2 linked regions of the Homo sapiens genome follow. The gene in region 1 interacts genetically with each later gene. Each region holds a gene or a part of one and is shown on either strand. Other genes may lie near its edges.

The links.
Region 2: changes in ACOX1 (region 1) and TRPC6 together harm fitness less than expected from each alone (positive genetic interaction), as found in Homo sapiens cells (one large-scale study listed by BioGRID).

The regions. Positions count from the first base shown.
Region 1 is NC_000017.11:75,951,659-75,957,305, forward strand, and holds part of ACOX1 (peroxisomal acyl-coenzyme A oxidase 1), read right to left. Parts: intron 4,290-5,647; coding exon 4,170-4,289; intron 4,024-4,169; coding exon 3,908-4,023; intron 1,963-3,907; coding exon 1,793-1,962; intron 1-1,792. UniProt on the Homo sapiens protein: Involved in the initial and rate-limiting step of peroxisomal beta-oxidation of straight-chain saturated and unsaturated very-long-chain fatty acids.
Region 2 is NC_000011.10:101,574,008-101,577,507, reverse strand, and holds part of TRPC6 (short transient receptor potential channel 6), read left to right. Parts: intron 1-3,500. UniProt on the Homo sapiens protein: Forms a receptor-activated non-selective calcium permeant cation channel. Probably is operated by a phosphatidylinositol second messenger system activated by receptor tyrosine kinases or G-protein coupled receptors.

The DNA of each region.
Region 1 (5,647 bases):
CTTGGTATTTTAACTTATTTAGTCCTCTTAAGGGCACTGTGAGGTAGTTACTATTACTATCTCCATTTTACAAATGGGAAACTGAGAGGTTAAGAATCTGCCTGAGGTCACACAGCTCGTATGTGGCAGGTCTTAGATTTAAATTGAGGCTTTTTTTTTTTTTTTTTTTTTTTTGTGATGGAGTCTCCCTCTGTCACCCAGGCTTTAGTGCAGTGGTGCGATCTTGGCTCACTGCAAGCTCCGCCTCCCAAGTTCAAGCGATTCTCTTGCCTCAGCCTCCCACAGTGGTGGGATTACAGGCATGAGCCACGGTGCCTAGGCTATTTGGCTCCCTAAGACCATGCTGTAATTACCTTGTACTGCGTAGGCTGACAGAATTTTCTGGCTGCAAAGTCCATATCTGTCCTAGTCTTTCCAGTATGACTAAGAAAACCGTAGCTCATAGCAACATACAAAACCAACGCTAGTCAACCTAATAAGAAGGCAATGCCAAAAAGCTCTACTCACCAGATGGCTGAATACATTGTATTTTGACCACAATCTTGGAGAAGACCCAATGGATGGTGTTAAATATTTTGAAGTGTAAGAATTAGCAAGGGTCTCATTGTATCAATTCCTTTATTCCTTTTTAAAAATGTAATTATTATTATTATTTTTTGAGATGAAGTCTCTAACACCCAGGATGGAGTGCAGTGTTGTGATTTCGGCTCACTACAACCTCCACTTCCTGGGTTCAAGTGATTCTCCTGCCTCAGTCTCCCGAGTAGCTGGAATTACAGGCACCCGCCACCACACCCAGCTAATTTTTGTATTTTAGTAGACGTGGGGTTTCTCCATGTTGGCCAGGCTGGTCTTGAACTCCTGACTTCAAGTGATCCACCCGCTTTGGCCTCCCAAAGTGCTGAGATTACAGGCGTGAGCCACTGCGCCTGGCCTTAAAATTTAATTAACTTTTAATTTTTTTGAAAATAGACCAGCCTGGCCAACATGGCGAAATTCCGTCTCTACTAAAAATACAAAAATTAGCTGGGCATGGTGGCGTGCACCTGTAATCCCAGCTACTCAGGAGGCTGAGACAGGAGAATCACTTGAACCCAGGGTGGCAGAGACTGCAGCAAGCTGAGATCGCGCCACTGCACTCCAGTCTGGGCAACAGAGTGAGAATCCATCTCAAAAAAAAAAAAAAAAGAAAAGAAAATAGAGACAGGGTCTCACTATGTTGCTCAAGTTGGCCTCAAACTCCTAGGCTCAAGTAATCTTCTTGCCTTAGCCTCCCAAAGTGCTGGGATTACAGGTGTCAGCTACCACACCTGGCCAGTTTCTTTATTCCTTAGGAGTAAAAAGAGTATCAGGGAGTATCAGTGAAAGGCAGTTGTAGGAATAAACTGTGGCTATGAATGCAAAAGGGAAACAAATTTAATGTCACTTTCACCATGCACAATTTACAGTTGCTAGTAGTAATCAGAACTTTCAAACTGCCTTTAGTGTGTTGAACATTTCACTTATAAAGTTCAAGTAATATTATTACTATTTTTCTTAAAAAGTTAAAAATAATAAGGTGGGTATTCTCTTTTTTTCTTTTTTGGCAGTCACTGATTATAGCAAGGGTGGTTATTTCTGTCTTTCCTCTTAAGAAAAGGAAGCCTAGATATGAAATTACAGGCCCAGTTATCACCCTAGCCAATTTTGCAGTGCTAATGCATCTTCTGTATTGACATTTGGGAATTCTGGGATCTGAATGGGGTAAAAACTAGGCCTTTGGTACTGAGCCCATCTAGGACCCTATCCTTACCCTGGCTTGATTTCAGACTGGTGCCTCACAGCGCTGTATCGGATGGCAATGGTGCACGCCTTAGACAGAGCCCGAGCAGCTTCTCCCACAAGGAAGGACCTGACAAACACCATGGTCCCGTAAGTCAGCTTGTTACTCAGCGGTTTCACGTATGTGCCATCAGGCTTCACCTGGAAGAAGAACGTGGAACTGATACTTCCTTCTTTTAAGCCCAAGAGGCAGTTCAGTGGTTCTCAAAGTGTGGTCCCTGGAATAGCAGCATCAGCATCACCTGGCAACTTGCATGAAATACTACATCTTAGTCCCCACCCTGACCAACTGAATCAGAAACTCCAGGGTAGGGCCTAGCAACCTGGGCTTTAACTGGCCTTCCAGGTGATTCTAACGCATGCAAAAGTTTGAGAATCATTGGTTTAGCAAATCAAAATATGTCCTTCAACCCTGACAACTGTTTCTGATTTCACTGTCGCAGTAAAAGAAGCATCAGAGTGGGCGTGATGGCTCACGCCTGTAATCCCAGCACTTTGGGAGGCCAAGGCAGACAGATCAAGAGGTCAGGAATTCGAGACCAGCCTGACCAACATGGTGAAACCCCATCTCTACTAAAAATACAAAAATTAGCTGCGTGTGGTGGCACGTGCCTGTAATCCCAGCTACTCAGGAGCTGAGACAGGAGAATCGCTTGAACCTGGGAGGCGGAGGTTTCAGTGAGCTGAGATTGCGCCACTGCACTCCAGCCTGGGTGACAGAGCAAGACTCTGTCTCAAAAAAAAAAAAAAACCAAAAAATGCTGGGTGCGGTGGCTCATGCCTGTAATCCTAGCACTTTGGGAGGCCGAGGCAAGAGGGTCCCCTGAGGTCAGGAGTTTGAGACCAGCCTGGCCAACAGGGTGAAACCCCACCTCTACTAAAAATACAAAACAATTAGCTGGGTGTGGTGGCGCATGCCTGTAATCCCAGCTACTTGGGAGGCTGAGGCAGGAGAATCGCTTGAACCCAGGAGGCGGAGGTTGCAGTGAGCCAAGATCACGCCACTGCACTCCAGCATGGGTGACAGAGACTCTCTCTCTCAAAAAAAAAAAAAAGGGGCATCAGAAGGAAAAATGCATTATTAGCTCCTTTTTTTTTTTTTTTTTTTTTGAGACAGAGTCTCGCTGTATTGCCTAGGCTGGAGTGCAGTGGTGTGATCTCGACTTACTGCAACCTCTGCCTCCTGGGTTCAAGCGATTCTCCTGCCTCAGCCTCCTGAGTAGCTGAGATTACAGGCGTGTGCCATCACACCCGGCTAATCTTTGTATTTTTAGTAGAGACAGGTTTTCACCATATTGGTCAGGCTGGTCTTGAATTCCTGACCTTATGATCCATCCTCCTTGGCCTCCCAAAGTGCTGGGACTACAGGCATGAGCCACCGCGCCCAGCCTTATTCCCTCCTTTTATGAGACGGAGTCTCACTCTGTTGCCAAGCTGGAGTGCAGTGTCATGATCTCTGCTCACTGCAACCTCCGCCTCCCGGGTTCAAGCTATTCTCCTGCCTCAGCCTCCTGAGTAGCTGGGACTACAGGTGCGCACCACCACGCCCAGCTAATTTTTTGGTATTTTTAGTAGAGATGGGGTTTCACCATGTTGGCCAGGATGGTCTCCATCTCTTGACCTCATGATCTTCCCGCCTCAGCCTCCCAAAAGTGCTGGAATTACAGGTGTGAGCCACTGCGCCCAGCCTCCTTTTTTTTTTTGAGACAAGGTCTCACTGTCATCTAGGCTGGAGTACGGTGGCATAATCACAGCTCACTGTAGCCTCGGCCTCCCAGGCTCAAGTGATCCTCCCACCCCAGTCTCCCAAGTAGCTGGGACTACACACGTGTGCCACCATACCCAGCTAGATTTTTTTACTTTTTGTAGAGATGGGTTCTCACTATGTTGCCCAGACTGATCTTGAGCTCCTGGGCTCAAGTCATCCACGCACTCAGCCTCCCAAAGTGCTGGGATAACAGGAATATGCCAGTGTGCCCTGCTGTTATTACCTTCTAAAAGAACAGACCATTCTAACCCTATTGTGAGTAACAGCCACTCAACTCCACTGTTTGATGCCTCTGCTTTATTTTCTATCAAAACATACCTGGGCATACTTCATCAGCATGTTTTCTCTGGGAATACGATGGTTGTCCATTTTGAGGTAGCCATTGTCTATCTCATCATAACCAAATTTGGGGCCGATGTCACCAACGGTAATTCCTACCACAGATGAAAGGACAGTCACGAGATGTTTATGCTCTGGAATTTCTGGCTTTTGCTCCGCCTCTTCAGTTGGGCATTCTACCTTTTGCAGAAGAAAGTGCTCAGTTTCATTTTCATCTCAACATCAGATGAACAGTTCTTACCTGGCAAAGGCTTATGGGTCCCGATTTCACGAATAGGTACGATAAAGGCATGTAATCCATAGCATTTCCCCTTAGTGATGAGCTGGGCAAGAACTATTGCATGATTTGAAGTCTTTCCAACTGTAATATCAAAGAGAACAAGGGAGGGGTGGGCAAACGTTCATACATTTTTAAAGGGTAGAAAAAAGAAGAAAGAATATGTTAAATCTAACACTAGACTAAACCAATAGTATGTGTCCAGAAAGCCTTTCTGCTGACAGCATCACACCTAGCTTTCAGAAAGAAATTCCCTTAAGCTAATAGTTATTACTTTCTTTTCTACTTATTTCTCATACATTTACGTAGAGAAAATTTTAGGATAAAAATAAGAATATTAATTTAAACTACTTCCTTGTTATCCCTTAAGGCAGTGCTGTCCAAAACAGTAATCACTAGCTACATGTGGCTTCTTACATATAAATTATAAATAAATAAAATATATAATGTGAATAACAAAATCCTTCAACCACTAACTGTATTGGAAATATATATTCCAAGATAATAACTCAGAATGGAATAAGAAGATATAAAAGTTTCGGGTCAGCCGGGCACGGTGGCTCGCGCCTGTAATTCCAGCACTTTGGGAGGCCGAGGCGGGCAGACCAGAGGTCAGGAGTTTGAGACCAGCCTGGCCAACATGATGAAATCCCATCTCTACTAAAAATACAAAAATTAGTTGGGTGTGGTGGCACGCTCCTGTAGTCCCAGCTACTCAGGAGGCTGAGGCAGGAGAATCGCTTGAACCCAGAAGGTGGAGGTTGCAGTGAGCGGAGATCACACCACTGTACTCCAACCTGGGTGACACAGTGAGACTCCATCTCAAAAAAAAAAAAAAGTTTGTGTTAAAACTATTTAAATTTTTTTCTTTTTTTTTTTTAAGAGACAGGGTTTCACTCTGTCACCCAGGCTGGAGTGCAGTGGCATGATCACAGATAGTAGCTCACTGCAGGCTTGAACTCTTGGGCTCAAGTGGTCCTCCCACCTCAGCCTCCTGAGTAGCCAGGACTATAGGTCTATAGGTATGTGCCGCTATGCCTGGCTTTCCTCTCTCTCTCTCTCTCTCTCTCTCTCTCTCTCTCTCTCTCTCTCTCTCTCTCTCTCTCTCTATATATATATATATATATATATATATATATATATATACACACACACACCTCTCTCTGTCTATATACACACACACACACCCCTCTATGTACACACACCACACACACATATATTTGTTTGTTGGGTTGTTTTTGAGACAAAGTCTTGCTGTGATGCCCAGGCTGGAGTGCAATGGTGCAATCTTGGCTCATTGCAACCTTCCCGGGTTCAAGTGATTCTCCTGCCTCAGCCTCCCAAGTAGCTGGGACTACAGGTGTGCGCCACCACACCCGGCTAATTTTTGTATTTTTAGTAGAGATGGGGTTTCAGCATATTAACCAGGCTGGTCTTGAATT
Region 2 (3,500 bases), on another chromosome or scaffold:
TTCTCCTTCTTTCCTAGATGATTGACATTAGATATGTCTACTCCTTTAAGCAAAGATACCACCACTGACCTACAGAAGTGTGGCTTTACTCTCTGACCCCAAAGGGGCAGTCACATCAGAACATGACAGTCCAGCAGCAGTACGAGGTATTTCCAAATAAAATTAAAGGGCTGATTTTCTTAACAAGACATATTTATTGAATGGTAAGTGAAATCAATAAAAGAGAACATGTGCGACACAATGATTTCTTATACATATGTAGTGGTCTAGAACGCAGAAAGAATCCTATAATCTAGTATACCCTTTGAAATGGCATCTATAACCATAAAGCCAAGACCTAGACTTTGGTGAAAGATTGCAGTGTGGAAGCTTGCTCTTCCAGGGGAAAAGCACGTGTAAAAACCACCTTCAAATCTGGCTCCCCTTCTATTAGGAGTAATCGTCTCCCCCAACCACTTGGATTAATGGTGGGTCTCATAGCTGATGACTTTGAAGCTCTGTATTCTGCATGGAAATGACCTGTTTTGTGTTGAAACCTCCCCTGGCTTGAAGTAATCAACTCTACTGGTAACATATTATTATCGTGAAGCATTTTTAGGGTGCCAGCATTGTAGGTTGTGGAATGATTGCCAGATGTGCTTAAAAGTCCACATTTATTCTGTAACAAAATGTTTGCCTCCAGGAAGACATTGCATAATTTTTTTTCTCTAGACAGTTTATGCTCCTTGAGTTGTAAGAAGTAACTTCATAAGGCAATTCATCTTAAAGAGGGTAAAAGTCATAAAAGGAAAACATTTTCTTGAGTCCATTCTTATTTTTCTCCCTCTTTCATAAAAAATGCCAAATATAATTGGTTCCAGTTGGATAAAATTACCATGTGTGTGATTGCTCTTTGTTTAGGAATCTTCTGATGGCTTTCAATACATGCAGAAGTGTTCATCCATATGCCAAGTTTCAATTAAACTTTGGCATCTAAAATTTGGTATGCTGCTCAAGAGGCTTTAAGCCATTGGAACTGACTGAATCACAGTTCTTATAGAATCTCTGTTTAGAGCAGAATACAGAAATGAGTGTTACACATACTCAAACAACCTATATGATTGCAGCATAACTGTTCTCCACCTAATTCAGCTCTCAGCCATGACAAAGAGGAGAAATGATGTTAACTAGAATTACATACAGTTTAATGTAAGTTGCTGTTTCTGTGGAGGACTAATCCAAAATATTTATATATATTTGGGGCAACTAACATTTTTTGAATACCTATTCTGTAGCAGGTTCTTTTCTAGTTGTCATACAAATGTAATTTGATCTTCAGAGCATCTACTCAGCTATTTTTAGCATCCGTTTTATAAAGAACAATGCTGAAATTTAGAAATGTTAAACAATGTGCAGTAAGTTACACAGCCAGTAGGTTGTTGTCAAGTGGGCAAAACCCAATATATTTGGGGCTGGAACACGTGGACCATGGGGCTGGCAGATTCTCTCAGTATCCCATATCTCAGTCCTCTATTCTCTCAGTATTCAGCCAGGCACAGCTGGATACAGGTGGATTATGCTCTTCAAAAGCGCACTCACCCCCATTCCTTCTCTTCTCCCTTTTCATAGGAATTTGGAAAGCCACACGTTGGCTCTGATCTACTGAACCAACATTCCTTGTGCTGTGCTCATTATATCTAAGTTATATCCTGGGTACGGATAGAAGACTGGAAGAAAAGGGCATAAATAGCAGTAATAAGTATGTTTAACCCCCACTTTCTCTTTCTGTTGAAATCTTAGCCATCTTTGGAGGTCAAGCTTTATATCTCACTTCTTTCATTAATTCATTAATCTATTTATTCATTCATCTCTGTTGATTTTATATGATTATGTCCAGCAAGAATAGAAATAATAGCTAGATTTATTAGCGACTTCTGTGTGCTAGGCCCTTCTCCAAGTGCTTTGTAGGTATTAACTCATTTAATCCGTATCACAAACCTATGAGATATGCATTTTTATAATCCTCACTTTACTGATAAGAAAAAAGAATGACAGTAAAAAGAAGGTAGGTGACTTGCCAAATGCTACACAGCTAGCAGTTGGCACAAATGGGAAGAAAGAAAGGGAAGAGCAAAGGATTTTGTTTTATCTCTTATTTCAATAAAGAGTGAAACTAGGTTTTGAAAAATTGCCAGTCTTTGTCACCAAAGGAAGACTATGAATGTTAACAAAATTGTGTCGATTGCTAATGTTACCAAAGATCCACAAACTGATCATGACTAAAGATTGCAAAAGGCAAGGCTTTCTTTTACTTTTCATTGCCATCATGTGGATAAAACTGCTTCTATGCTATAATGCAGGTTGTTTTAGAGACATTGACTCACATGACAGTGTGAAACTGGGGATTTAACCACAAGATTTGCATAATTTTTAAAGCATTTACATGGTATTCGTCTAAAAATATAAGTTGCCAGGAATCAATTACAGTGTGGATAGTCATGTTAAGATTGACTGCCTATTCAAAGCAGAGTTCATGTTTCCATTGCACCAGCTTTGGTTTGTGATACAAAAAGCATTTTGTCCTGACTTGTAGTAGCACAAAACCTTCACAAAAAAAAGAAAAAACAAAAAAACTAGGAAGAGTTCTTTTCATGGGAATCGCTAATAAAATTATCTTGAGAGTTAGGAGTCAAAATAAGAATTAGAAATGGCAATTTCTAAAGGTAACTTAAAAATTCTTTTAGGGAGCTAAACTGTTACAGATAAAAATCATTTTTGTTATTACTGAGTTAGCCTTCTTGAAACAGAATTTTGTATAGAGTAGATTGAAGGGTGGCAGAAGCAGCTATAAAAAGCTGATCCTGGGCAGTAAGAAAATCCCCACACTTAACCTAGGGGAGGGATTTCTGCAGGAACCCTTTTCTTGGAGGGGCATTCAGGGCCAGACACTGTATTCCATCTGGAAAGATTCTTAATTTATTTCAACAAACATTTGTTTAAGTTCCTTTGGTATGTTAGGCACCATTTTAGGGTAACCAATGAATACCATATAGCATGAAGTCTAAGCTTCTATCAATTGTAACCTGCTCTGACATTTTATGTATCTTTAAGAAATAAGCAAAAAGAAGTGTTATCAGTTAAATTATATCTTAGATTTTTATTTTATACCTCTTAAAACAGTTCTTTATACTCAATTAGATATAGATTTGGATCATATATAACTCTTATGCACATAATTAAAAAATAAACAAATTTGTTATGGTATTCCTAAGTTCCTTCACATTTGGGGATGGAGTCTTCAGAATCACTTTTCAACTCAGAAGCTTCAGTGCCCATATTTTTCCACAGGATTGTGCTCTGTGCCAAAAGGACATTGGTGATGAAGGATTTCTTTAAAACAATCTAAAGAATCCATAATAGACCAAAAGCTTTTGGTGCTAGACAATTAAACTGAGTTTGCAATTACATAGAGGTAGACTGTTTTGAGTAACAGTTCCAGAATGTTGCTAAACAAATCTGAT